Linked DNA regions of Homo sapiens: all the other regions are linked to region 3. Evidence: fine-mapped expression QTL. A gene starts in region 3. Each other region holds a variant in brackets. All regions are shown on one strand. Distances are from middle to middle. Region 1 has its middle 35 kb from the start of SNTN. Region 2 overlaps ATXN7 (ataxin 7). Region 3 holds the start of THOC7 (THO complex subunit 7).

Evidence for each region.
Region 1: its variant is fine-mapped to the expression of THOC7 in lung (TOPMed, PIP above 0.99).
Region 2: its variant is fine-mapped to the expression of THOC7 in whole blood (INTERVAL, PIP above 0.99).

What each region holds. Positions count from the first base shown.
Region 1 is chr3:63,682,337-63,692,505 of GRCh38, forward strand. No RefSeq gene overlaps it. Among named protein-coding and RNA genes, the nearest start is that of SNTN, 35 kb to the left of the region's middle. RefSeq lists an enhancer at 4,816-6,774. The variant G/A (reference allele first, on the strand shown) is at 5,492.
Region 2 is chr3:63,940,590-63,950,758 of GRCh38, forward strand. The region is part of intron 4 of ATXN7 (ataxin 7); the gene reads left to right. Among named protein-coding and RNA genes, the nearest start is that of PSMD6-AS2, 58 kb to the right of the region's middle. The variant C/CA (reference allele first, on the strand shown) is at 6,053.
Region 3 is chr3:63,859,224-63,869,392 of GRCh38, forward strand. THOC7 (THO complex subunit 7) reads right to left here and starts at 4,582. Exons shown (of 8, transcript NM_025075.4): 1 at 4,549-4,582. The coding sequence starts at 4,567. It overlaps ATXN7 (ataxin 7), which reads left to right and starts at 4,644. Exons shown (of 13, transcript NM_001377405.1): 1 at 4,644-4,935. It overlaps THOC7-AS1 (THOC7 antisense RNA 1), which reads left to right and starts at 1,422. Exons shown (of 2, transcript NR_104326.1): 1 at 1,422-1,773; 2 at 2,276-2,596. RefSeq lists silencers at 4,301-4,520, 4,851-5,090, 5,101-5,320.

The DNA.
Region 1 (10,169 bases), 180 kb before region 3:
AGGCTCAAACAGGTTAAGTAATCTGTCCAAAAAACAGAGCTGTTAACTAGCTGGACTGTGGTTCAAACTCAAGTGAGTTGATTCCCTTGCATTTTCCTAATTTTTTTCCAAAACATTAATTTGTTTACAAACTTTAAAGATCTTTAATTCATCTAAAATTTAATTAGGAACATGATGTGAAGTGAGACATAAATATTTTGTTTTCTGAAAATGCAATCACAATTTAAAATGATTTTTTTAAACAACTTAATATAACGGAGAGAAAAATACACATGACATGATAAGTAAAAAATGGAAGCCTGGGCGAGGTGGCTCACACCATTAATCCTAGCACTTTGGGAGGCCGAGGCAGGCGGATCATCTGAGTTCAGGAGTTCGAGACCAGCCTGGCCAACATGGTGAAACCCTGTCTCTACTAAAAATACAAAAATTAGCCGGGCGTGGTGGCAGGCACCTGTAGTCCCAGCTACTTGGGAGGCTGAGGCAGGAGAATCTCCTGAACCCGGGAGGCAGAGGTTGCAGTGAGCCAAGATCATGGCATTGCACTCCAGCCTGGGGGACACAAGCGAGACTCCGTCTCAAAAAAAAAAAAAAAAAAAAAAAAAAAAACAACCAGAAGGGAAACTAAACTATATACACAGTATAAGTAACTGCATTAAGTACAAAATATGTATAGCCACTGATATGACATCCATTGTACATCTACATGGAAACATGACACTGATGAAGTTGAAGGAAGAGTCTGAAATCAGAAATCTAGCATTAGACTGCTTAGGTGGGTCTGAATCCCACACCTACCTCTAACTCTCTCTGGATGGCCTTGTGCAAATTACTTAACCTTGCTGTGCTGGTTTCTCATTTAGAAAATGTGGATAATATTACTTATCTTGTGAAATGGCTGAAAAGCTTAAGTAAGTCAATCCATGCAAAACAGCATAGTGCTTAACACTAAAAAACACTGCACCTATAAATATGCAAAAATATTGATAGTTCTAATCACTGAATGGTGTAATTATATGTATTTTAATTTTTTTCATTTAAATGTTCAAATTGAAATTTTCCACATTGTTCACAATGGTTTGTTTTGTTTGTTTGGTTTTTATACTCAGGGGAAAAGATGGTTAATTTTTTCAAACTCTGGGTCTTAAGTGTGTCAGTAATGCCAAAATATTCTAAAATCAAAAACTAAGCCCCATACAAACTCCCTTTGGGGATGCGCCTTTGCGGAGAGAACCCCCATGCCCCCCTCATAGAAAACAAGCTCCTCATTTCCATAAGCTGATAACACAGGAAGCATTAGAGCAAGGATTCAGCAAAAAATAGAATCCTGAAATAATAAATTGGAAGTATTGGGCATTGTGAAAACAAGAACCAATAAATGTAAATAACTCCAAGGTAAATGATTTCTTCAAGTCCCTGAGGTTCTGTAAGAGTTGGAAATATGTTATATTGCATTATAATTTATAATTGGATTTTGAAGTCTGTTCAGTAACAGGTCTAGTAACAGGGCTGGGAATTAATCCTCAATTCATACCTCATTATATTGCTGCAAATATCGCCAAACTTGACTCCACATGAGACAGACCTTCATCTATATAAACAAGGGGGCCAGCCAGGCCCATAGTACTCTAATACAGGTACTTTCTTATATATGGGGAACTGTTGGGATGGAAAGCTGAATTATTCAAAATAATGCAGTTCCCTTGCTAAACTTCACGGAGCTGTAGACGAAGCTAATGAAGGAAAGATTTGTCTGTGTTTCTTCAGAGATGATTTGCGAAAAAATCAGCTGCAAATAACTAGAGAAGCAATCTAGAGAAACGCTTAGTATGTCTCCTACAAGCAAGAGTCTGTCCTGGCCACGAAATTGCTACTGTTCAGAAATTCAATATGTGGAAAAAAACGCAAGGAGAATAGTTCTGGGAACCTGTTCTTCTGGAAAATGATGATTAAAACATTTTCTTCCAGCCACCGACCTCCCTCTGGGGACTAACAAGGCTGAGAAAGATAAAGAGTAGCTATGTGGCTTATTGCCCTCTCTGAACTTCATTTGTCCCACCTGTTGAGTAAGAATACCCACCCGGCAGCATTTCTGTGAGGATGTGAGGATGTGAGGACTCCAGATAACTCACACAGTGTGGTATTCTTTTCTTTTCTTTTCTTTTTTTGACAGATTCTTGCTCTGTCGCCCAGGCTGGAGTGCAGTCGCGTGATCTTGGCTCACTGCAAGTTCCACCTCCTGGGTTCATGACATTCTCCTGCCTCACCCTCCCTAGTAGCTGGGACTACAGGCGTCCGCCACCATGCCCAGTTAATATTTTTGCTATTTTTTTTTTTAGTAGAGATGTGGTTTCACTGTGTTAGCCAGGATGGTCTCGATCTGCTGACCTTGTGATCCGACCACCTCAGCCTCCCAAAGTGCTGGGATTACAGGCGTGAGGCACCGCGCCCGGCCCACAAAGTGTGGTTTTCTTAAAACCTGACACATAATAGACGCACAACAGCTGTTAGCATTATTACTGGGGTGCTGATTTCAAGAACCTTGGAAGAGCCTGGGTCTCCAGTTTCCCCAACTAATTTGCTAACGTTTAAATACCTTCAGTTGAAGAATATGCTTTCATTTTACTGTTATAGATAAGGCTTTACTATAAACATCTGGGTGTGATAGCAATTTCCTTAAATTCGTATTAAACTACAAATGATCCATGTCAGATTATAACAGGTTCTGAGGACTACTATAAGGGAGAAAGAAAACATTTGCCTATTCACTTATTAAGCATTTATTTAGCACCAACTATATGCCAGGTTTGCACCAGTTTGGGGGCAGGGACAAAGACAAGCCTATGGACTTTGAAAATGTTCCTTTCTTGGCCTGTAATAAACTGCCAGGCTCATGGTTCTCATCCTTCATGCCTTGGTTTAGATCACTTCTTAGGTTCCGTACATGCTCAGATTCTGTGCTTCTATAGTTTTACAACAACAGAATCCTCTAGACAACTTGTAGTGACCAGGCTTAGCCACACACTCAGATGTGTAAGAAATCACTATTTCTTTGTTTTCATGAAGCTCAGTTTAAATCAGTTTCCAAGGCTTATTCCCACCACGGTGGGCAGAAATTTCATCTTAGTCACCATTGAGCACCTATCTCTCTGAGTCATTTTAGAATCTAGGACTTTCCATCCTTCAGCCCCTATCCTCCATCATGGCCAACTTCCTCTTTGTCACAGCTGACAGTGGCACCTCCCCACTCTAAGAAGCTCTCAGCTTTGGTGGGTGCAGAAACCTTGCTGAGGCAGACAGCTCTGTGTCTTGAGTCCAGTCACTGTTTGATGTCTTGGTGCTCTGAGAGGTACTGCCAGCTACGCAATGTGAAGGTCCTGCCATCTCTCACCTTCCACCTCTGATCTCTCTTGGAGTCCACAGAGCTCCTTCCATCCCAGGCGTCTGCAAACTTTTTCTGTAAAGGACCAGGTAGCAAATATGCTGGGGCATCACAGGCCTCACTATCTCTTTCACAGCTACTCAGCTCTGTTGCTGTAGTGCTAAAGCAGCCATAGACAACTCATAAATGAACGAGCATGCTACATTCCAATGACACTATATTCATGAACCCCAGAAATCTATTTTTGTAAAATGTGCATGTGTCACAAAATAATATTATTTACATTTTTTTTTCTTTTTTGAGATGAAGTCTCGCTCTGTAGCCCAGGCTGGAGTGCAGTGGCCCAATCTCAGTTCACTGCAACCTCTGCCTCCCAGGTTCAAGTGATTCTCCTGCCTCAGCCTCCCGAGTAGCTGTAATTACAGGCGCCTGCCACCATGCCCGGCCAATTTTTGTATTTTTAGTAGAGACAGGGCTTCAGCATATTGGCCAGGCTGGTCTCAAACTCTGGACCTCAAGTGATCCACCCACCTCAGCCTCCCAGAGTGCTGGGATTACAGGCATGAGCCACTATACCCGGCCTCTTCATGTCATTGTTTTAAAACCAATTCTAATGTTCAGACCATTAAAAAAATAGGCAATGGGCCAGATTTGGCACACATCCCAGAGATGGCCAAACTGCTCTATCCTCTTCTCATCTTCAAAAAGCTTAACATAGTTTGTTTCATGAGTGTGGACTTTTTGAAAATAAAGGCCATTTATTCATCATTCATTCATTCGGTTAACAAATCCTTATAAGGTGACTGTCCATCATCCCAGATTGCCTCGGATTAAGGAGTTTCATGGGATGTGGGATTTCTAAGTATTGAAATTGGAAAGTCCTAAGCAAACCAAGAGCATTGATCACCCAACCTATTAAGCGCCAGGTAACAAAGGTTCAGGAGTAAATGAGACAAAGTATTTGTCATTATGAAACTGGTATGGTCTTCGGGAAGGCAAGTGCCTTTGCCCACAACTCCTATCCTTGGTTTAAGATACACACCTCCCCTAACTCATTCCTGGCAAGTGCAGAAGGTCAGGGGAAAGTGCTTGAAGGAAAAAGCCCAAATTATCACCTCAACAGATTGTTCTATTACACAGTAAAGTACTGTGCATAATATTGATTCTAAGCGTCAAAGGCAGAGCAGCAAGAGTAAACATGTAAAAGTTCCCAAAATGCAAGGTGACTGAACCAAAGTCTCACCACACCCACCCTACCCACCCCCGAGGATTGATCCAGGGCTGGAACACTAGGCCCAGGGAGCAGAGTAAGGGCTTTCAGAGTAATCCAAGCACCTTTAGCATCTAGAGGTGAAAAACTCTAGAGATTTCTGTGGTACTAGCAAATGCAAACATCCTAAAATCATTTTATAAATATTGCGAGCAATTTCATTTGTTCAATCCTGTTGGTTCGATTCTGTGATTACATTTATAAATTCAATTTGACTTCATGAGAAAAGTCTAAATTTGAGGCCTGCTAGAAATGTGAGGCCCAGGCAAAAAAGTTCTCCTCTTCTCCTGTGCTCCTTGCCCATGCTCTCCCCTCCAAAAGAGTTTGATATAGTAACACAGCCTCAGCAGGGCCTTTTTTAATCAGGAAAGGCGTACACTTTGGGAGGACAAGATCACATGCCACAGTGGTGAGTGATGTACAGACAGGACCTCAGTCCCTATTTGACTCCTCTGTCGGGCAGCTTTGTGCAGTGCATAACCTGCACCGCTATACAGAGCTACCCTGAGACAGCTGTCCGGACTTCCAGGGAAGAAATCAGACCCTTTTGCTAAAGTTGGAGGAATAATGAATGGGGTGAATCTAATTGCTTCAGACCCCAGGGCAGTAAGTTGCTCCTTCGGAAGTGATTTCTGTCTTTCAATTGCTTGTGTTTTTGACAACTGGCTGTTTCTCACCTATTGTGTCTTCCTGTGGCTCTACTTGCAGAATGTGCCTTCAAACAGTGGGCTGAGCATGGGTTGGGAAAGCCTTTGAAAGCCAGCCAGGCAGAAAATTCAAGACAAAAGGTCTTCAAGCAGATATTATTGACATCCTTTAGTTAAGCAGCTGCTCTGGCT[G/A]TAGGAGGATAATAAAGAGTGTACCCTAAACCCTGCTTCAAAGGGGGACTTTGGCTTGGCTGAGGGGCTGGTTGTAGAAGCCTGTAGAACAAGTGCTTTTATACATCCTTCACCTACCTCGCCAGCTGAGAATTGTTCATCCGGTACTAGTGGGAAAGTCTCCCAAATGCACAGTCTGACAGCACTGCCTAGACAGTTCGTGATCAGGTTGCCATGTCAACAAGAAAATACCCTACTGGGGTTTTGTTTACTCATCACCAAGTTCTCAGTTTGTGTAGCTCTTAGCCATGAAAAAAGCTAAGAAATCTGATCTCTGACTTCCAGATTGCTTCTCTGGGCACTGGAATTATTTTGACCCCAGTGGGGAAGACTAGGAGTCTGCTAAGGCACCCATCGTCTATGGGGAGGGGTGAGAGAGCAAGAAGGGATGGAGCCTTCGGATGAAGCATCTTGAGTGTTTCATTGACAGGGGAAATAATATTTATGGAGTATCTGTCATGTGTCTGGAATTCTGCTACAAACTATGCAAATTTGATTTATCTTATTCTCACAACTATCCTGTAGTATTAATATTAGCCTGTGCATTTTATGGATGAGCAAAGAGAGGCTAAAAGGCCAAACGACAGATCAAGCTTCACTAAATAAGAACATGTGCATAAGATGGATTATTATGCAGCTGTTTAAAATAACATTTTTTTGTTGTTCTTGTATTTTTAGTAGAGACGGGGTTTCACCATGTTGGCCAGGCTGGCCCCAAACTCCTGACCTCAGGTGATCTGCCTGCCTCAGCCTCCCAAAGTGCTGGGATTACAGGCTTGAACCACTGTGCCCAGCCTAAAGTCACATTTTTGAAAGACATTTCATGACATGTTCACCTTGGCATATCGCTAAGAGAAAGAAAACAGAAGGCAAAACTGCACAATATAACATATCCAGGCCAGGCGCAGTGGCTCACAACTGTAATCCCAGCAGTTTGGGAGGTCAAGGTGGGCAGATTACTTGAGCCCAGAAGTTTGAGACCAGCCTGGCCAACACAGCAAAACCCTATCTCTACTATCTCTACTAAAAATACAAAAATAATTAGCCATGCATGGTGGTGCATGCCTGTAATCCCAGCTACTCCAGAGGCTGAGGCGGGATGATCACTTGAACCCAGGAGGTAGAGGTTGGAGTGAGCCAAGATCCAGCCTTGGCGACAGAGCAAGACTCTGTCTAAAATTAATAATAATAATAATAACATATCCATAGAAGATATATAGGATGAATAAATAGCCCTAGACACAAAATTATGGAGAATAATACTATGGAAATAACTGAAGATCACCCAAATGAGAACAAGCAAAGTCTATTTATTCAGAGCCTGCTATACAAGGGAGTCAGCCACCATCACTTGCATTTGACAAAGGATGAAAGGCGGGCAGAGGAATGGGAACACTTTACAGTGAAAAAAAAGGGAAGGCTTCAGGTGTGCCTTTATTGGAGGCTGTTGGCACAAGGAAGCTTGATGGGGCTGACCAGAAGCAGGACATCCTATGTGACTGGTTAGGGGAACATATTTGGCTTTCTCTGGTTTGTCCTAAGTGGGAAACAGAGATGCAAATTGGGAAGCTGACAGTCGTTGACCATGTCCTGACAGTCTGGGACCAATTACTGCAAAGGCTGTGGTTTAGCTTCTTGAACTGGTTGCTGTTAGGTTTTGGGTCAGAGTTCTATTTTTATATCTGATTGCACCATTGTTCATTTGTATATTCAGTCTCTCAATATACAAAATGATAGTAGTAATTATCACTAGGTTTCAGGACTACAATTGATTTTTTTCTTTCTAATTCTTTTCAGATTGTTCTAAATGTTCTATAATAAACAAGTGTTATTACTAACAATAAATAAATAACTGTTTTTATAAGGAAAAAGAAATCGAGTTACAAAAAGGTTCAGTAATTTTTCTGAAGTAACACAGCTAGTAAGTAATTTGCCTGGAATCGAACACAGATCTTTTAGATACTAATGCCTGAGCATTTTCCTGCCCTGTGTCTCCTAGGGATCTTCAGGGCTTGGACTGTTGTTGGGTGAGGGGAGGGGGGAGGGATAGCATTAGGAGATATACCTAATGCTAAATGAAGAGTTAATGGGTGCAGCACACCAGCATGGCACATGTATACATATGTAACTAACCTGCATATTGTGCACATGTACCCTAAAACTTAAAGTATAATAATAACAAAATAAAATAAAATAAAATAAAATAAAAAAGAAATGAAGAATGTAAACTTGTGTTGAAGAACTTATACAAACCAGCAGCTTCACAGACATCACTTTAAAAGTATCTTGTTAAGTCTCATTATTGAATAGCTAATACAGTTTCAAGATATATATTTCCAGGAAATTTGAATTCAAATAAAAGGTGATGATACTTTAGTTTTTAATCACTTATCAAATAATAAATAATTTTTTTAGGGGAGCATTCCCAAATACCTTTGAGGCACTAACAAGCACTCTGGACTACCTTCCCAAAAAGAAATGCACAAAACCAAAAAGTCTTGTTACAATTATGGAGGCCGACAGGCCAAAAACCTCTATTCTGATGGTAGATGTGTGACATCACTCACAAGCCTAGATGTAGGAAGATGTTTGAGATCAGTAGGAACTTTCTGTGTACTTTACAAAAATCATCCTGTTTATAATCAGGTGTGTCTATGTTTGGTGCAGCTCAATTCTGATTTATTTGTGGCTAACAGATGACAGTCAGGGGTGCCTCCTGCATAACTCTCAGAATTGTGTCAGGTGACCAACCAGTATGTGAAAAGTGAAATCCATACATAATACACAAATTTTACTTAGGCAAATAGCTAACACCCCCATTCCCCACTTCTTCCACTGCCAATTATTTTCTTACCACTGACACCCTAAAGGGCCAGTTTGACATCCTCTCTCTCTTATCCCTGTGAAATAATCAAAATAGGGATGAACAAACCATGAGATAATATATTCTCAGATCAACAACCTCTGAAGTTAGGGATCATGGTGAGTTACTTGGAATTCCACTTCTGGCATGGCAGTGTAAGCTCCTAACAAACTGAACACTCACATAACAACTGTAAGCTCTGGGAAAAATACAAAAACAACTACCCAAAGCTGTATAGAATGAGCAAAATAGGAAGATTTTGGAAGGAAGTCAAAACCTAGAAGAATGATGTAGAGTGAGATTCTTATTTTTATGGGTCTATCCTGTGAGCTGACTGTAGTCATTGCTGGCTTAAAGTGGTCAAAACTTCAACAGAAAACTCATTGTTTCTCTGGCCTGAAGAACCAGATGACAGAACTCAGGGCAACCATAGCTTATGGAAAATGAGAGACTAACGTTGTAAAAGAGAAATCCAAAGAAAGGGAGTCCCAGATTCTGTTTTCAAACTCTACCCAAGTCTCTGGGAAACCAATAAGTCATGCACACATGGGGCAAACACAAAGCAGTTTTCAGAGAAAGCTAAAAGAAATGAAGTTCAACTTGAAATTCTCACATCCACAACAGGATAGAGAGAATTTGTGGTTTGAATCTAACCAAGTTAATTGCTTACAAAAACAACAGCAACCCTCTTCAGAAGAATATAGCAGAACCCAGAATTGCCAAAGTACTGTATTCACAATGTTTAGCATACAATCCCAAGTTACACAACACGTAACAAGTCAGGATATAGTGATATATTATCAAGGAAAATGTAATCAACAGAGGTCAACTTTGAGATTGCCTAGATGCTGGAATTATCAGACAAAGACTTAAAACAGCTATTACGACTATGCTAAAGAAAATAAAGGAAAATATATGCAAAATGAATCAAAAAGAAAATGTCAGCAGAAAATAAGAACAATAAAAAAGAACTAAATGAAAATTCTAGAAAGAAAACATATAATATCTGAAAAAAATCACTGGGAATAGGCTTAATATTATCAACAGCATAGACATGAACAAAGAAAGGCTCAGTGAGCTTGAAGATAGATCAATACAAGTTATTCAACCTAAATAAAAGAGAGAAAAATAAACAGAGCCTCAGGGGCAACATCAAACATTAAGCCTGTGACACAACATCAAAAACTCTAACATATGTCACTGGAGTCCCAGTTAGAGAGGGCAGAGAAAATGAGCCACAAAAGTTATTTAAGGGAATATTAACCAAAATGACCTCCCAAATAGTGAATATATAAATTTACAAAGTCAAAAAGCATCAAACTCCAAACAGGATATATACAAGGAAAACCACACCCAGGGACATCCTAGTGAAGATATTGGAAAGGGAAAAAAGAAAAAAGAAAAAAATGTGAATCAGTAAGATTAAAATGACACAATAAATATAGGAAAATTATTTGAATGGCAGAGAAAAACAATATATTACATACAGAGGGACTGAAAGGCAAGACTCAAAAGACTCTCATCAGAAACTGTGGAGGACAAAAATGAGTGGAACGTTTTAAAAGGCTGAAAGAAAAACACTAAAATCCCAGAATTCTGTTTCAGCAAAAATATCCTTCTAGAATGAAGGAAAAAAATATGTCTTCAGATTTAAAAAATAATAACAGAATTCACTGCTAACAGACTTGTACTACAAAAAATGCTAAAGAAGTTCTTCGGGATGGAGAGAAGTAATATCAATATGAAACAGAGCTTCAAGAAATAATGAAGAGCATC
Region 2 (10,169 bases), 81 kb after region 3:
ATCGAGCCCTTATGTGTACACTCTGCTTACTGTGTTTAGACAGATATAGACCGCAACTTTTTACATGAATTATCTCATTCCGTCCAACAGTCCATTAAAGTTGATACTATCATTTTCAAATGTAGAAACTGTATGCCTAGATGTGCCTAGAGGTTAAGTACATTGCTGGAGATTACAAAACCAAGCTAAGTGGTAGACTCTTAGAGCCCGTATCCTACTCTAGACTACATGCTTGTCCAAATGGTAGGGATGCAGACAAGATTTATAAGGTTTTTGGTAGGCACTTCCAGATTTGGGACACATGGCATTGAAAGCTTGTTTTCTGACTTGAGAGGTCAGGATTTGCTGACAGTATTTTGAGGAGTAGCTTAAGGAACCCGTGAGACAAACCTGTCGTGTGTACTGCCATGTTGGTCACTGTTGTAGCCCCACCTGCCATTCCTAACGCAGGTTCCTCAGGATTTTGATATTTGCCTACTCTATTCTATCCCCAGCATTTTATCTCAATTTCAGTACAAGCAATGACAATGTAAACACTGTAACTCTTACCTGTTAGGGGTCACTATTGATAATATTGGCCATTTGTAATTAGTGAGTAATTAATATTAGGAATATTTTCATCTTTCTAGCTCCTTGGTCGTCTGGTGCAGGGGTCCCCAGTCTCTGGGCAGTGGACCAGCACCAGTCTGTCAGTGGCCTGTTAGCAGTCAGGCTATGGGGTGGGGGGTTTGGGAGAGAGAGAGGAATGAGCATTACCGCCTGAACTCTGCCTCTTGTCAGATCAGCGGTGGCATTAGATTCTCACAGCAGTGTGAACCCTATTGTGAACTGCACGTGCAAGGTATCTAGGTTGTGTGCTCCTAGAATCTAACTAATGTCTGATTATATGCGGTGGAACAGTTTCATCCTGAAACCATTCTCTCCTTGCCCCAGTCCCATGGAAAAATTGTCTTCCACGAAACTGTTCCCTGGTGCCAGAAAGGTTGGGGACTGCTGCTGTGGTTTTTGTTGCTTGCTTTTTACTTGAAACATCTCACTTTATTTTCTTTAAATCTAGTATTTATTGACTGCTTTGGTTTACGCAGGGCCAGACCTCATACATTTAGTAGCTTGCTGATTGGTCTCTCGTTGGTTCCATCATTTGACATCTTTTGGTCAAAGGGAAATCCAGTTATCTTTAATTATTGGAGTAGACAATATGAATCTGGGAGTTGTGCTTATGGAAGGTGGAAATAAAATTCTACCTTTTTCCTTTCCTACTTGAGACTAAAGCTCACTTAACAGCAATTTAAAACTTTAAAAATATCATTGATGCTACTTTTGATTACCGACTATTGAGAGTCACCTGTTGAAATAAATTTGGAACTGACTGTAGTAAAACCTGTTACGTGGAGACCAGCCTTCCTCTTCTCTCTGGTTTCTTAGAAATATATCCAACAATGGAGCCGAGAGTCCTAGCATCTCAGGAAACCTATGAGCAGCGGTGAGAGCAGACAGTACAGAGGTACCCGCAGGAGTCTGCTGGCAGATAGGAACAGCTTGATTGACTTTTCATGAAATGAGACAGAAGAGCAGGGATTTCCTGGGAGAGGTGGAGAGTAATTCAAGAAGGGCACTGAGTAGTGGAGGAGCTCATCTAATAAGATGGTAAAGAGCATGTACTTTGGAGTAGCCTACCTTCACATCCCAGCTCCTCTGCTTACTGACTTTGTGACATAAGGCACACAGCCTCTCTGTGCTGCCTCACTTGCTTTCTATAAAGTAGGTTATTGACCCTGAGAAGTCAAATGAGTTAATACTTAGCATTGTACGTGGAACACAGGAGGCACTCCATAATTGTAAACTGTTTTATTTTTGTTATACGTATCAACACTTCGCAGGGTTTTTTTTCTTTTGTGTAGGGTTGTGAATTTTGTTCACCGATATATTTACCCAATACCTTGAATAGTGCCTAGCCAGAGTAGCCATTCATGTATTTATTCAGTGCATAAATGAATGAATGATGTATTTAGAATACCTGCCACAATAACTGACACCCATTAAGTACTTAATACATAGTGTTACAAGAGGTAGTGGCTACAGACCAGTAGAGATTGAAGCAGTGGCTAGTGTATCCCACTGATAGTAAAAATAGAAATGATTGTAATAGTATTACATACATAGCACATGCTCCATGCCAAACACAGTTACAAAAGTTTTATGTGTGGTAATTCTCTTTATCCTCATAACTACCCTTAAGGTTGCTGCTATAATCTCTATTTTACAAGTGAGTATACTGAGCAGAGTAACTTGCCCAAGGGTCATGCTCCTAATGAGTGATAGGATTGGGATTTGAACTCAGTTTTATTCCAGAGGCCATTCTCAAATTTTTTTGTTGAAAACCTGTGTGTCAGGTACTGTGCTATGTACTTGTGGCCCCTGACCTCATGGAGTTTAAATCTTAATGAAGGAGATAGCCACAACACAAATAAGAAATAACTGAGTGACAAGAGAGAATTGTGTGAAGCCACAGGGGCCTGCCTTAAATTGGGTATTCAGGGAAAGTCTTTCCAATGAAATGTGAGCTCAAGCCTAGAGCCAGGCAGGCAAAGCATTCCATACAGAGGGAACAGAACTAGCAAAGGGCCCGAAGTGGGGTTGGCATAATTGTCAAGGATTTCAGAATGCCAAAGCGGAGAGTTCGAAGAGAGCAGTGTGTCTTGAGGTTGCCGATGTTAGGCAGGACCCTCCAGTATTTGTTATTATTCTGACTACATTGTAGAACCACTGAGGAGATTAATTGGGCCTGATGACATTTATGATTTAAAAGTATCACTGTGGTTACTGGGGAGCAGGGGGAGTGTAGAGTGGGCCCTGGTAAGCACGGCCAGCTCAGAGACCAAAGGACGACAGTGGAGAAGATGATAAAAATGGCTTGAATTTCCAAAGTACTTACTGTGTAGGAGGCACTATTTGAAGCATTTACATATATTCGTGTAGTCCTCCTAGTAGTCTGTGAGGTAGGTACTTTGACTTTACCCATTTAGAAATGAGAATATTGAGGTATAGGCTAGTAAGTGGCAGGGCTGGGATTTGAACACAACTTGAGTTCTTCTATTCTGTGCCTAACCCTTCATGTGTTTATATTAGCTGCAGTAAAGAAGGAAGAAACTACAGACTCATCTTTGGATTCCTTCCTCTGCCTCAGCCTCACATCCATGGTCTCCTGAGCTCTTTGCAGGGTACTCTAGACCATGTCTTCAGTCTGGTTTCACTCATTTTCATTGTATAGTCTCTTCCTGTCTCACTCTATTGCATCAGCCTTTGGGAGCTGCCTTCCTTACCTAGGTCAATACACATTCATGGCAGAGTTACCTTCTGGATCTTGTGGTTTCCTTGCTAAAAGTTGTAGGTTGCCCTTGGCTTGCAGTATTGGCCCTCTGCTGCTGGAGCCCCAGCATGCCTCCCCTACCTCTCCCTTGCATGGCCTTCAGGGAGGAGTGTGTGGCCAGCAGTAGGAGCACAAGACCACTTGAGAGTTAAGCTCACATTGTGAAATAGTCAGTTGCTAATTGGTGTATATAGTTGTTCCCCCGTATCTGCGGGGGATACTTTCCAAGATCCCCAGTAGATGCCTGAAACTGAGGGTAGTACTGAATCCTATATATACTGTTTTTTCCTGTACATACATAACTATGTTAAAGCTTAACTTATAAGTCAGACACAGAAGAGATTCACAACAATAATTAATAATAAAATAATAATAATTATAACAGTATGCCAGCATTTTTATTCTTGTGCTTTGGGGCCATTATTAAGTAATAAGTATTACTTGAACACAAGTACTACAATAGCAGGAGTTGATCTGATAACTACTAAGTGACTAATGGACAGGTAGTGTAGACAGTGTAGATATACTGGACAAAGGGATGATACATGTCCTGGGCAGGATGGAGTGGGATGGTGCGAGATTTCATCCTGCTGTTCGGAATGGCTTGCAGTTTAAAACTTAGAAGTTATTTCTGGAATTTTCATTTTAATATTTTCAGACCACAGGTAACTCACACCTCAGAAAGCAAAACCATGAATAAGCGGGGATTACTGTAGACCAGACTTCTGTTAATTAGTAAGAGCCGGGGACCTTGAGACAAACATTTCTAATGTGGATCAATTTTGTGAGTTATGTTTTTTTTTGTTTTTTGTTAGTTTTTGGTTTTTGTTTTTTGTTTGTTTGTTTGTTTGAGACAGAATCTTGCTCTGTCACCCAGGCTGAAGTGCAGTGGCGCAGTCTCAGCTCACTGCAACCTTTGCCTCCCAGGTTCAAGCAATCCTCCTGCCTCAGCTTCCCAGGTAGCTGCAATTACAAGTGTAAACCACCACACCCAACTAATTTTTGTAATTTTAGTAGAGATGGAGTTTCACCATGTTGGCCAGGGTGGTCTCAAACTCCTGACCTTAAGTGATCCACCCACCTCGGCCTCCCGAAGTGCTGGGATTACAGGCATGAGCCACCGCACCCAACCTGTGTTTTTGTTTTCTTGAGCTAACTTTATTGAGTGATTACTATCAGTAGTACTAAGCGCTCTCCATGGATCATTCAGTCTTCACAATAGTATTGTGAAACACAGGTCCTGTTAACTGTATTTTAGACACAGGGCAACTGAGATTCAGAGAGGTTAAATAATTTAACCATGCTCACATAGCTAGTAAGAGGAAGAGTAGACGTTTGAATACAAGTAGTCTCACTGCAGAACTGCTTTTAGCTACTGTGCTGGATTCACTAGCACAAAAGAATTTGTCAACATGCAGATTTGAGAATCAGACATTGAAATACAGAAGTTTTACTAGAAACTGCCTCTAGGTATAAAATGTTTTCAGGGAAGACTATTGAACTTGAACTTCTCTGTCACTGAATGGCATACCCAATTCCAGCAGATGATGACCATGTGTCACTAAATGACATAAAAGCACAATTATAACCTTCTGACTTACGGTGGCATCACAAGGACTTAATCTTTCAATTATTATTCATCAAGTAATATTTAGCACATATTCATTGCTGCTTTCTGTCAGCCAGGTTAGGCACCATTAGGCACTGCCACCAGAGCAGTCAACAAGATAGATATGGAATGTAGTCTAGTGGGAGGAAGTTAAGGCTTGCACAGCTGGATGAATGTTTACAAATGGGAGATAGTGCTTGGCTAGGAGCCCTACCTAGCCAAGTCTCTGGGGAAGCCACATTGAAGCTAAGACCGAATGAAGTAGAGCAACAAGCCAGGTACAGGTCTGGGGGAACTGAGTTCCAGGCAAAAAGAGCAGCAAGTACCACACAGGATTCTGTGACGAGAGTGTGGTGTAGTTCAGGAACAAAACCAAGGCCAGAGTAACCAGATGCAGAGAGGCAGGGCCAAGCTGTTCAAGGCTGGTGGGCTAGGTCAGGGATCATTGCTTTTATCCTAAGAGCAACTGAAAGCTACAGAAAAGTTCCAAATGCCAGTCATTTACTTCATAAACACACAGTGATAGGGAACTTCTCAGGTATTGTGCTAGGCAAGGCAAAGAGTCTGCTGTCCAGACAGGACTACTGAGGTTTCCATTTGTAAATTTTTATTCATAAATCATAAATCAGTGAGTGAAGGGCTGAAATGGCAGGCATAAAGGGTATGAGTAGGAGCCTAGCAGAGAGGGCATTGGGGCTAGTTCTTGTCGAACGGTGGGAATTGTAGAAAGAGCAGAGAGAAGAGCTTTCTATGCTGTAGGAGCTGTTCTGTCCAAAAGAAGGAATTGTGGGCCAGGCGCGGTGGCTCACGCCTATAATCCCAGCACTTTGGGAGGCTGAGGCAGGAGGATCACAAGGTCAGGAGATTGAGACCATCCTGGCTAAGACAGTGAAACCCGTTCTCTACTAAAAATACAAAAAGAAAATTAGCCGGGCATGGTAGTGGGCGCCTGTAGTCCCAGCTACTCCAGAGGCTGAGGCAGGAGAATGGCGTGAACCCGGGAGGCGGAGCTTGCAGTGAGGCGAGATTGTGCCACTGCACTCCAGCCTGGGCGACAGAGCGAGACTCTGTCT[C/CA]AAAAAAAAAAAAAAAAAGGAATTTTAGGAGAACAAGACAGGTTCTGAGAATGACAGGAGACTTGAGGCAGAATCACATTGACTGAGGCTGGAGAGATGGGAGGGACCAGAATGCTAGGTAGGCGCCTTGTTGCAGAGCAGTAGGTCCAGAGTCCAACCCCCACTTTGAAGCCAGCAGGGGTCTTCAAGTAGAGAAGTGGTATTATTGCTTTACAAGTTTGTGGGCTCAGGCAGCTGGGAGGAGGAGGCTACGTAAGAGGAACAAACTGTGGCCTTGTTAGGAGACCTGTTCAGGTGAGTAGAGGCCCCATACCTTGACCTTGGGCACTGGCAGTGGGAGTGGCACTGGCATAGAGGAGGTGATTCTGGGAGAATACTGGAAATTGCCAGGGGTGTTATGAGTCTAGCAGACCTGGGTTTAAACCTTGGGTGTGCTATATACTAGTTTGTGAGATTTCAATCCTGTGTGCCTTAGTTTCCTGACAAATAACAATCATGACTTTTATCTCATAGACTGTGGGCAAACATTGAGTGAGCACTTCCTAGGGCCAGGTGCATTTCTAAGACTGGCATGTAGTAGCTCTCTTAGTCTTTCTGTCCTTTGAAGTACCCAGTGAAGTAGGTACTATGGTCATCACGGTTCAATATGTGAAGAAAATGCTGGCCAGGCGCAGTAGCTCACACTTGTAATCTCAGCACTTTGGGAGGCCAAGGTGGGAGGATCACTTGACCCAGGAGTTTGAGACCATTCTGGGCAACATAGTGAGACCCCTGTCTCTACAAAAAATAAAACAAAATTAGCTGGGCGTGGTGGTGCACACCTGTGATTACTCCTAGCTACTCAGGAGGCTGAGGTGGAAGGATCGTTTGAGCCTGGGAGATTGAGGCTGCAGTGAGCTGTGATTGTGCCACTGCACTCCAGCCTGGGCGACAGAAACCTTGTGTCTGGAAAAAAAAGTGATAATTTGAAGAGATTGTATAACTTGCCCAAGGTCACGTTTCTTTTGATTGAGGGAACCAGGATTCAGAGTGATACTGACCCACACTCTTAGCCACTCTGCTTAAAATGCCAGTGATAGTAACTAACTGGGGAGGGGGAAGGAACAGCCCTTTGAAGTGGTGACAGCTGAGCTGAGACCTGATGTGTGAGAATACACCAGGCATCTTGTGAAGTGCAAGCATAGAGTCTGGCTGGGGAAAAGGTTTCTGGGTTTGAGGAGAGAAGGGAGGTCAGTGTGCCTGGAGCAGAGTGAGCCAAGGAGAGAGAAGTGGGGAACGAGGGAACAGAGGATGAGAGGGAAGTGCAGGTATATCTGGCAGGACCTTGGGAGCCAGGGTAAGGGCTGGAGTTCTATTCCAAGAGGAGTAGAAAGCCACTGGAGAATTTTAAACAGGGGAGTGATGTGATCTGGTGGGGAATTTTAAAGAATCACTCTGGCAGCCTTGTGGAAAGGTTTGTAGACTACTTAGGGGACTTCTTCCAGAGTTCATTGAAAGGGTGCTGGTGGCAGGCCCAATAGTGGTGGCCATGGCAGTGGAGAGAAGTGGATGAAGATTTTAGGATAGAACTTAACTGGGTGTGCTAGTGGCCTGAATGTGTTGAGGGACAAGAGAGTTGGAGGTGACACCTGGGCTTTTAGTTTGAGCTGTTGGGGGATGAATAGTATCATTTACCCAAAATGGGGAAGGTTGTTGGGTGAGGAGCAGAGAAGGGTCAAGAGTGAAGTTTTGGACATGCTTGTTCTGTTTGAAATGTATATAAGACATCTAGATGGTAATGTCTAGTAGGCAGTCTGGTACGTGAAACTAGACAGAGCTTGGGAGCAGTCGGGGCTGGAGATAGAAACTTGTGAGTGGCATGTAGAAGTTTGGGATGCGTGGGAAAAGGGAGACACGCAGGGTACTGGGCAGGTTAAATGCTTTGCAGTGCCATTCAGGTTTTCTTGTTACTGAACAAAGTCCTCAAAATGGAGATAGCAACACCAAAGTAAATACATTCACCACAGTTTGGGGTATGGTTTCTAGCAGAGGGACTTCATTCTGCATGTGACTGAAGTTTCCATATACATGTGCTCAAGTGTCCTTGTGCTTAAACCTAATCCTCCCTAGTATGCTGGCCTGGGGTCTCCAAAGTACATGATGGCCTAGATGTGGGTGCTGGCCCACTCACTAATTGGAACATAGGGGTGACCTAAATCCTGAGAAAGATTTAGGGCTTACACAACAATAAAATCCATTCTTTCAAATTCGTTTAGAATCCATTAATTCAAGTACAATTTTTAAACTTTATGCTCAAGTACATAATTAATGGCCTAAGTTGTATATTACAAGTATATTTTGTAAACTTTTTAATTGAATAATGAATTCATTTTTATTAATTTTATATTTTTATTTTCTGTTGTAAATCAAGCTTTTCACAGCATTTGAGCAAGATCCCTATTTTAATTTGCAGACGGGTTGATTGTGAATTTATGCTTTAAAATATTTAGGAACATACATACTGTCTCTCACACACACATTATTTCATTTCTTTCTGTTGCCACAACATTCCACACTCTGTTCCTGTTGCTAAGGCCCCTGGAATGTCCCAGAGCAGAAAAAGAATATAGAATTCCTTTTTTTTTTTTTTTTCCTGAAGAAGCATTTTATTTAAATTATTTTGTATCCTCTAGTTTACTTCCAAATATGGATATCTGAAAGTGAAGAATTTAGAAAGCTAAAATTAAAGTTGCTTTACGTTTTCATAAAATGAACTCAATTTCTTTTTCTTTTTGTGAGACAGAGTCTCACTCTTTCACCCAGGCTGGAGTGCAGTGGCGCAATCTTGGCTCATGGCAACCTCCACCTCCCAGGTTCAAGTGATTCTCCTGCCTCAGCCTCCTGAGTAGCTGTGGTTACAGGCACCTGCCACCACACCCAGCTAATTTTTGTATTTTTAGTAGAGACAGGGTTTACTATGTTGGCCATGCTGGTCTCGAACTCCTGACCTCGGGTAATCCGCCTTCCTCGGCCTCCCAAAGTGCTGGAATTACAGGCATGAGCCACCGCGCCTGGCCCAGGGAGCTCAGTTTCATAGGGTAGAATGAACTGGGTTTAAGTATACCATGTTTCTTCCCACAGAGGGGGTGTGTGTGTGCATGCTTTTTAGAGAGATTCAGTGTGCTCATGAGAAATTAAGAACCGAGTTTTCCGGTCACACAAACCAGAGTCCTGGTTATGCCGCTTTCTTGCTGAGTGATATTAAATAAGTTTGTTTCTCCATAAGTAAAATGGGGATTATTATGTAGGGTTATTATTAGAAATAAATGGGAAAAACCATGTAAGAACTGCTTGGCATAGGACCTGGCACATAGTAGTCTCTCAGTAAATGTCAGCTGGTTATCATTATAGTCATCATCAGTTGCAATTGATCTTAAGTTATTGAGGAAATAGAAATTTTTACAGAAGTATAGATTCTTGGTTCCTTACAGGATAACCCCTATCTTTTTAGTTTTACTAGTCCTAAGTCTCAGAAAAGGATCAAAGGAACCAGGGCAAAAAAGAATAATTTTGTACATGATAAACATCATGTGACAAATTGAATCCTTATTATTTGAAAGGATCAGTTTAGGTTTTTATTTCTCTTAATTGCTTTATTTTTAAAGGGGTAGAGGGTTAGTCCACAGAAGAATCTGGTATCTGGCAAAGTGATCTATTTTAAGCAACAGTGCTTTACATTCAGAACTGAGGGAAATCACAGAGACCACCAGCAGCACATTGCAGAGACCTAAAACTAAACTAACACTGTTTATTTAATACTGTTTTAACTGCTATCTAATAATAAAACTAATTGAGTTGATTTCATTAATGAAATTGTTCATTTGATATCTATCTCACACTCTTCAGTTGTAAATTATGAATGTTATACCAGTTCTGTAATTTAGATGTATCAGAGGCATTTAGCACAGAAGCATATGGAACTTACGGTAAATGACTTTAAATTTTATTTTTCAGAATGAAATGTCATGTCAAGAAACTGTAATCTTGGAAAGTGACTTATTACATGTATATCATTGCATAGATATAACCTTTCCCCTTCTCCCACATGTACTATATTTAACTCAATGTGGGCAGGCTT
Region 3 (10,169 bases):
TTTTATGCAACTCAGAATGATCTAAAAGATGAATTGGATCACTAACTCTCCTGCTTACAATCCTCCTATCATTTCTAAATGCCCACAAAGGACAATTCAGTCTCCTTTCCAAAGCCTGCAAGGCTCCTCCTGAGCTCCCTTTTACCTCCTTTTGCATCGTACTCCTCTTGGCCCACCTGGATGCAGTCCTGTCCCTAGATCCAGCCCAGTGGCTTTCCTTATTTCCTCTAAAGGGTGCAGAGCTTGTTTTCACCTCGGGCCTTTGCACTAGTTGTTGTCTCTATCTGGAATACTTTCCTGGGCTCTTCATGTGGTTGAACCTGTCAGGTATCACTGCCCTCCCCCATTACTCTCTGTCCTCATTCCATCAAGTTCATTCTCAGAACTTAATTACATTCCTTTTCAGAAATTATCTTATTTACTTATTTGATTGCACACTATGGCTTCTTTCCCCAAAGCAGGGGCCAGGGCCCTCCTCTGTCTAGTTCACTGCAAAGTAGCCAGGACCTCGCATTGTGCCTAGAAGGTATGCAATAAATACTTGTTGACGGATCACACATACCACTCATTTCAGCTTGATTTTTTCAAAAGCTCAGCTGACAAAAACCATGTTTATAGAGGATTGTCTGAAGAAGTTGTAGTTTGTCTTTCCTCTATGGTCTAGATATTCAATCAAAAAACCCTGATTTGAATCAAGCCAGATCAGCAGAGCTACCCACTACCCACCTAAACCACATTGTCCATTGATTTTATTTATTTATTTTTAGACAGGGTCTAGCACTGTTGACAGGCTGGAGTGCAGTGGTGCAATCATGGCTCGTTGCAACCTCAAACTCCTGGGCTCAAGTGATCCTCCTGCCTCAGCCTCCTGAGTAGCTGGGACTACCTACAGGTGTGTTCCACTCCACCTGGCTAATTTAAGAAAATTTTTAGTAGAGATGAGTAGCTGAGACTACAGGTGCACACCACCACACACGCCTGGCTAATTTGAAAAATTCTGTAGTATAGATCATGTCTTGCTGTGTTGCTTAGGATGGTCGCAAACTCCTGGGCTCACGTGATCCTCCTGCCTTAGCATCCCAAAGTGCTAAGATTGATTACAGGTGTGAGCTACCACACCCAGCCTCTACTGGCTTTAGAATGTCTTTCTAAATTGTGATTTAGCCTTCTTTTACCTAGCAAGGGATGTGCTACAAAACAGCTCTATGATCTTCAGTGCTGAAAAGAGGTTAAGGATATGACACTGGCTTTCATTTATAAAGACCTCAATGATAAACTTTTCCTCTAGTTCAAATCAGAAAAAAAAAGTGCTTTTCCTGGGCATCTAAGATTGCCTTCTCTCATGAACACTAGATCACAGAGCAGACGAGGTCCTGCCTCTCAGAATGGCCTACTGGAGAAACAGGTCACTTACAGCTTGGTTAATTAATGTACTAGACTTTATCCTCCTGCATTTTGAGGATCACCCCACTTCTGACTTCCCTTTATTTTTCCTAATCTCAATGTTCTTTTTGTCTTGTTTTCTAATCCGTTTAATTTTTATATTTTCTCATTACAGTGAACTGCCTTAAATGTTTTCTAGCATAAGGCATATAAATAACGTATTAAGGGTGACAGCAGCAATATGCATAAAATAATATGGCTAGTAGGCAGAAGGTCAACTACTTCTAGGAAAGAAAAGAGGGGATTTTTGAGGTGGGTCTTGAGGAATAAGTGGAGTGTCACCTGATAGAAAAGGCAGGAAAAGGCAACCTGTGCAGATTAAGAGAGAAGGCAAAGTCCACATCAAAGGAAAGTGGAAGACAGATTAGTAAAACAACTCTGACATTAATATTTACTGAATATTAATTATTATGTGTTGGACTCAATGCAAAGCCCTTTACAACTTTTTGTGTTTAATCCTCAAAACAATCCGCTGATGTGGATTTTATTATTATCTCCGTTCAGAGACTGAAGCTGAGACAGTCTGTAAGTGGCAGGGTAGAGATTCCTGTGGCTTTTAAGGATGTGGGGGGGCACTTGACTGCAGTCATTACTTTAGAACTCATCTTCTGTCCCTATCTCCCATCTGACAAAGCCTGTTGCTCCTTTGGACATCTCAATCTCAATAAATAGAAAAGTAGCACTAACAGGCACACAGTGAAGTCAAAAACCTGGGATCATCCTAAATCCCTTCTCCCACCATCCATTCAATACCTGAAGTCCTGACATTCTACCTCACAAATTTCCCTATTTCCCTCCCACCTGTCCTCTTTGCATTCCCTCTTGGTCACAGTCCTCATTGTCTCTCACCAGGGCCACTGCAGAAGTAGCAGACACAGGACGCATAATAGTGAAGAGCAGGAACTCGGCAGGTGGTCTCCCTGCCTTTGACCCTCTATAACTACTATCTGTGCGACCTTAGGCAAGCTAACCTGTGTCTGTTTCATCTGTAAAATGGGGATAACAATTAGAATAATACCTAACAGCACTACGTAAACGTTAGTAAGTGGCGAGGAAACTTAGCTCCTCATTTTCTCTTCCTCTAATCATTCTGCACATAACAGAGACAGTGTGTATGTGTGTGTGTGTTTTTTTTTTTTTTAATGAGACACGGTCTCACTCTGTCACCCAGACTGGAGTGCACTGGCGCGATCTTGGCTCACTGCAGCCTCAACCTCCCAGGCTCAAGTGATCCTTTCTCCTCAGACTCCCAAGTCCTGGGACTACAGGTGTGTGCCACTGTGCCAGACCAATTTTTTTGTATTTGTAGACATGGGGTCTCACTATGTTTTCCAGGCTGGTCTTGAACTTCTGAGCTCAAGAGGTCCGCCTGCCTTGGCCTCCCAAAGTGTTGGGATTACAGGCGTGAGCCACTGTGCCCGGCATGTGTGTGTGTTTTAATGCCAATCTGATTAACACCACACCAGTGTTAAAACTTTTAATGGATTCCTATTGCCCTTAGAGATCTCTGGCTCATAACTTTCTAAATTCTAGCAATACTTGTCAGCTTTGAGTTCTTCCAACATCTTGGGGTCTTTATACAAGTGGCTACCAACCCAGAACACCAGTCCAATATCTATTTATTCTTCAAAAATGGGATTAACTTCGAGGAGGCTTTCTCATTTCCATTGATTGGATAAATAATCTTTGTTACATGTTCCTACAGTTCCCAACCTTGTACTTCCTTGTGGTAATATTTGTCACTCTTAAAACTCATTAGTCAATGTTTCTTTCCCTTCAGACCAAAATTTTGGAGAGGGAAAAGTTCTTGCTTGTTAGTTCTGGGTTGTAATCCCAAAGCCTAGTCCAGGAAGGATAAATATCCACTAAATAAATGAAACTGGAATGAAGCAAAGCTGAAATTCCACATGAAGTTCCTGGGTCTTTAGTAGCCTCCCACCTCCACTACTCTTTATCAGTCTGGAAATTTGGGCCTATCACTGTTCTTCCCATGGCCAGGCCCTTTAATGTGGAGACCCTGGTGGTCTTCAACTCTTAAGAAGTGGCCTCTCCACAGGCATTTACAGTTACCGGTCACCATCTCCTGAAAAACACCCAAGAGCCCTAGATATCCCCTTCCCAGATATCAAAGGACCTCCTTCCTCCCTAACCAGATACCTTGTAGGTTCTCCCTCCAGTTGCCAATCATGCCCCTTCCCCCAAAGTGTCACCTTATTTCCGCTCTCAGTCCATAGACCATCTCCCTTAGACTGTCCACAAACCCAGCCTTTGCCCCTCTAAATTCATCCCAGCTGACAACCACCCTTCCTAACACACACACATACATCTTTTATCGTCCTGATCTACCCTAGACGGTCTCATCACTATACTGGCTCCTCCTTACCCCCGTAAATCTCCCAGGTACACTTCCTGATCACCCTCCGGATACCTCATCCCTATCTATTCCTTTTATAAATAATTCCCTGCTCCTCCTTCTCACCCACAATCCACTCGCAGTTCAAGGCCTCATTGCCATCGACTCCACTGTCTGTGAGTGCTTCCCAATATGCCCCAGGACCCCTCCTGGTGTCACGCTCTGTATCCTGACACCCCTTGTAGACGAGTCCCGAAATTCCCGCCCCGTCCCTGGAGCTCCCACTCCCTCCCAGACCTCCACAAACCTTCCAGGCCCCCAGCCCTAAGCCCGGCACCACTGTCCACCCTTCGCGGCTCCTGGGTCCTCACCGCGCCCCTAGACAAACCCGGACTCCCTCTGGTCCCACCCGCCCTTGCACCGCTTCTAGCCGTCTCGGCCACCCACGTGTGTTCCCAGCCCACCGACCACGCTCCCGGCACACCCTATAGCCCCGCGCTGCCTCCGGGAGAGCGGACGGGGAAAGCCGAGGGTCTCCGAGGGGCGCTCGGGCTCTGGCGAGAGGAGGAAGGACTCAGGGAAGCAGCCGGGGAGGCCCGGGGCTCCGGGGAGAGGTCGGGAAGGCCGAAGCGCTCTGGCGAAGAGGCCGGGGAGGCCGAGGGGTTCCCGGAAGCGGGCCGGGAGGCCAGGGGTCTCAGGGGAGGCCCAGCGGGCCGTGCAGCGGGCGCGTGTGGCGGCGAGCGGGGCCTCACCGTCAGTCACGGCTCCCATGGCGTGCGCGGCGGCGGCGGCGGCGGCGGCGGCGCAAGCTGAGGCGGCGGTTGGCGGCGGCGGAGGTCAAACTCCCACAATGCAGCCGGGTAAACAGCCATGGAGGAGGAGGCGGCGGCGCCCGCGGCCGCCTGCTCCGACGCCTGAGCCGCGCCGCGCCGCGCCGCCGCCGCCGCCGCCGCCGCCGCGGGACCCGCGCTCCCCGCGCTCCCGGTACTCCCCGGGGGCGGCCGCGGCCGGCGCGAGTTGGGGCGAGGCTTGGCGGCCGGCGGCGGCCCCGGCTGCAGCCCGGGCTCCCGCCGCCCCCCTTGCAGCCCCCGCCCGGCCCACGCCCAGAGGCCGCCCCGGAGGCCGCAGCCAGCCGCCAGGTGAGCTCGCCCGGACGCCGCCAGGGCTGCGGGGGTGCGGCGGGAGCTGCGGGCCGCCCGCAGTCGGGGTCCCGGCTTCTTCCCCGGGAAGGTGACTGCGGCCCCGCCGCCCCATCCAGGGTGACGCTGCTAGGGGTGGGCTCGTTTCCCTGGGGGGTGGGGAGGGTGACGGGGACGCCCGGATCCGGCTGAGCCCAGGAGAGGCGGGACTAGGGGTACCGAGGGGGGCGCGTCGCTGGGGGTCCCCGCGAAGTTGGCGCCCACGCGCGCTGGGGCGGGTCTCGAACGCCGGCACTTGCGCGGGGCGCGGCCGGCAATCAAAAAAGGCCCCGGGTTCCAGGTCGCGCGGTTCCGGCCCCTGCGGCCGCCCCCTTCCTTCCTGGGCTCGGCGGGTGCGGGAAAAAGGGTGAAAGAGAAACTTGGCGACCTCCCGGAGGAGTTCGCGAAGCGACCAGGAGCGTGTTGCCATCGTCCTCACCCGGCACCCAATTCCACCACAGAGTCGGGATTTCGTCGGTGATCGTGATGGGGTGCTTTTATTTTTCTCTTTGATTTTCAAAAAATGTCTATGTGACTGTCCCTATCTTAAGGGGAAGTTGAAAGTGGGGGCGGGGGTGCTCAATGAGAAACGTTGCCTTGTGTGTAGTTGTTTGGAGCACACTGCAAATTATATTGGCATCTCTTTCCAAAAGTCACTTTGATTCAACTTCGATAGCTTTCTCGTAAATGGCACGTTTAGGTGGTGAGAGGTGGATGAGGAAACAGGCACCAGTGCAGCTGATTTGACCTCCAGTGGGATAGATACGATTAGCACCAGGATCGTGTCTCATTTTGAACCCAGGTTTGTTATTTTATTCAGCCATACCGTTGTTTTCCAATTTTCCTGTCCCCCAAGTAGATCTTGCATCTTCATATCCGGGATGAAGAAGTTGTGTAGGATAAACTTGGTTGTTTCACTTTCCTTACTAAATTTAGGTACATTCTCCCTGTTTTCCCCCAGTTCTTTCAAAGAGGAGAAGTTGCAGATGCAAATGTATTAAAGTGAAGTGTGTTTAACCTCTAGCAAGAAATATGTACAATTTTAGTCATATTATGTGAGACCAGTGACTTCAATAATACCATTACAGTGCTCTCAAGAATTAGTGCTCAAGAACTTGACTTTTGTCACAAAGACAAAAATTACTTTACATGAAGATTCTGAGATGTGACTTGCTCTCCCCTAAGGTATGAAGTTTCCGACTTTGAAAAAATACTGACCTAAACGCTGGCTGTAGGTGGGCATCATCAGACCCTGTTCATTTCCTTGGTTTTAGGAGACAGGGCACTCTAAGAGAAGAATTGTTTTAAATCTTAAGTACTACAGATTGTAAACTGAAATTGTCAATTGATTGGGGTTCACAATACCAAGTTGCATTTTGGTGGGGATAGTTATTGTTTAGAAAGTAATTGTCGGCCGGGCGCGGTGGCTCACGCCTGTAATCCCAGCACTTTGGGAGGCCGAGGCGGGAGGATCACGAGGTCAAGAGATCGAGACCATCCCGGCTAAAACGGTGAAACCCCGTCTCTACTAAAAAAAAATACAAAAAATTAGCCGGGCGTAGTGGCGGGCGCCTGTAGTCCCAGCTACTTGGGAGGCTGAGGCAGGAGAATGGCGTGAACCCGGGAGGCGGAGCTTGCAGTGAGCCCAGATCCCGCCACTGCACTCCAGCCTGGGCGACAGAGCGAGACTCCATCTCAAAAAAAAAAAAAAAAAAAAAAAAAAAAAAAGAAAGTAATTGTCATGTGGTGAAAAGTTTTTTTTAAGTGTTTCTTAATCTTATCATAATACTGATTTTGAAACAGTGTCAGTGATTTAAAATAATCTGTAATATTTTCATGGGAAAGTATCACTGCCCCCTGTAACTTAAATTTTCGTGAGATACTCTCTGAGTTATTCATAAATGGAGTGCTGTTCAAACATTTCTATAAGTTAATTTGATAACCTATAATTTTGTTGGATGATGCTAGAAATTTTCTGGAGTAATAAGACCAAGAGGAATTTGAAAGACTTTAAAGTTTGAGCTGTACCTGAAAATAAACATTCCTGAAAGTTATTTTATTTTTTTTTGAGACAGGACCTTCCTCTGTTGCCTAGGCTGGAGTGCAGTGGCACGATCATCAGGGCTCACTGCAGCCTGGAACTCCTGGGCTCAAGTGATCCTCCCATCTCAGCCTACCAACTAGTTGGGACTACCGGCATGTTCCATGATGCCTGGCTAAGTTTTTTATTTTTATTTTTGTAGAGACATGATCTCACTATGTTGCCCAGGCTGGTCTCAAACTGCTGGGCTCAAGCGATCCTCCCGCCTCAGCCTCCCAAAGTGCTGGGATTATGGGTTTGAGCCACTGTGTCCAGCCTGAAAGTTCTTGACTCAAGTGGTGGGAAACACATAATTTGAGCCTTTATGAACTCTAAAATCTATTTTGTCAGCTACATGATTTTACTTGCAATTGCATTGACACAGATCTATTCATTGAACATTTAAGAATTGTCTTTTCATCATATCGTATATCTCATATATATGAGAGAACATCTTTTAGTAAACTTTACAAGTGGTCTTCTTTTTACATATTAACATGTTGATGAATGTTAAAGTAGCAAAGACTCAAGCCCTTACCATACTAATGTTTCTTCTTTTCAAGACAGATCTTTATGGGCAGAAACACAGAAATGGAAGTAGCAGATTTTAAGAAAACTGATTCAGACTTTGAACTTGTATGACCTTATATTTATTGATTTATTTGAGTCATAAGATTTCTGGGTTTTTTTTTTTTTGAGAATATGAAAGACTAGTTAAGAAAATTTGTGTGTTTATTTGATATTTGCTTTCTGAAAATATAAAAAATTATGAGAGAGCTAGCTATATATGGTCTTTATTCTGGGTCTGTGAAATAATGTAAGGAATTTTGTACTATGCTTTTAGAGCAAGAGTTATCCTGGGGGTCTGTGACCCTCCAAGGGTTGGTTTCAAGGGATTCCTGAACTCCCTGTAGTTGTGACCAGAACTTTTTGTGTATGTGTATTTTTCTGGAAGAGGGTCTGTAGTTGTTTTAGAAAAGAGATCCAGGACTTAAAAAAATTAGAGACACATCTTTTTATTGAATAAAATGGAAGTTAGAATTCTTTTCTTTTCTTTCTTCTTTTTTCCTTTTTCTTTTGAAACAGGGTCTCACTTTGTTGCCCAGTCTGGAATGCAATTGCATGAAACTGGCTCACTGCATCCTTGACCTCCTGGGCTCAAGTGATCCTCCTGCCACAGCCTCCCAGAGTGCTGGGATTACAGTCATGAGCCATCACAGAATGACCATTCTAAAGAGAAAAAAACATTTTTGAAAAGTAGATCTGTGTGCTCGTTACTTGCCTTTTAAAGTTATCTTCAGGCTGGGCACAGTGGCTTATGCCTGTAATCCCAGCACTTTGAGAGGCCAAGGCGGGTGGATCATTTGAGGTAGGCCGAGGCGGGTGGATCATTTGAGGTCAGAAATTCAAGAGCAGCCTGGCCAACATGGTGAAACCCCATCTCTACCAAAAATACAAAAAAAATTATCTAGGCGTGGTGGTGTGGCCTGTAATCCCAGCTACTCAGGAGGCTGAGGCAGGAGAATCACTTGAACCCAGGAGGCTGAGGTTGCAGTGAGCCGAGATCACTACACTCTAGCCTGGGCAACAGAGTAAGACACTGAAATAAATAAATAAATAACAAACAAATAAATAAATAAAGTTGTCTTCAGACTTAGAGGTGTAAAAGCACTTCCATTTTATTCCCACAACAAAGCATTGCCTATCAGTTGATAAGCCAAGCTGGTCTGACGTGCTAGTCCTGCATGTACTGTGGCTGTGTTTTTAAAAAATTATATCTAAAAATTCAGACCAGATCGTTTGATGGTAGATAAGCAAAGATTTGATCTTGACACCAGCCGTTGGAGTAAATGGGTCTTTCAGCTCCACTCTCTTCTCTCCAGAAAATTTGAAATTTGACTCAAAGGGAATCATTGTAAGAAAATGTGTTTGTGCCTTGGCAGGACAGTAGAACATGATGGGAAAAACACAGTTTGAGTCAAAATAGACTTAAAATTCAAATTTGGTTTCCTTTATTCACTGTAGCTACTTACCCTGCTTGACTCTTCAGTTACTCATCTGGATATGGCTAACTAGTAGAGTTGTTGGGAGGCTAGCTAGAAGTTTCCCGTATAAAAGTCTTAGCTCCTCTTTGGCCCGCAAGAAGGACTTACAAGCCAGGTTTGGGGAACCATTAATAAACATCTGAGGAAACATGTATATTCATGGTATAGGATAATAAGTACATTATTTCCAAATTGGTGTGATGAAGATATTAACACTTAAAACATTGTTTTTTAAGAAAAAGATTTTCAAAAATGAGTTAGGATTGAGTGGTCCCCAAATATAGATATTTAGAGGAAAGTGGAAAATGATGGTTTATTTGGCAGAGGGGAGGACATGGATGCTGCTGGGCAGGAAGAAATGATAGCCACCCACCAGCATTATATTTCTCTCTGTGGGCAAGATTCCATTTAACATTTTCTCTTCACTTATAATCTGAATTAAAAAACTAAAATACTGCACATGTACTTTATAGTCCATCACCCCTAAAAGTGCTTCAGCACTCCTTTCGTTTTGAGACCTTCACAGGTAACCCAGGGACTTCATGGGTGGAAGTTACACTTATAACTTTAGTTGTCTAATTCTGCTGTCTTTAAAATGCCTTCACAGTTGGGTACCTGTGTTGATTTTTGTCAATAGGAAAGGGTCTGGCAGGACTGAATCATATTTTACTTTAAATGCTGAAGTAAGAGAGGGCATTATGAGTCAAAAGAAAGTGTGAGATACGTAAATAAAATACTGTATAATGCTTATGGCCATAAAAATAAACTTGCTTCTACTATTTCTATAGTCTTAACCTTTCCTGTCATTTATTCGTGGTGATCATTTATGCTTTCTGCCCTTGGGTTGGGAAATGGTTATGAACACAGCCTTTAGGCTTTGAATATGGCCTTGATTCTCATTTCCTGAGCTCTCTGGTTGTGTTCAACTTGGTCCAGTCTCCTTCTTTGAGTCTAGAGGAGATGACCATTAAATGGGATAATAAATGCAAAAAAGTTTTGCTTACTCCTAGGCTCCTAGTAAGTACTCAGAAAGTGGTAGCCATTTTGAAGACAGTTACATTCTCATCTTT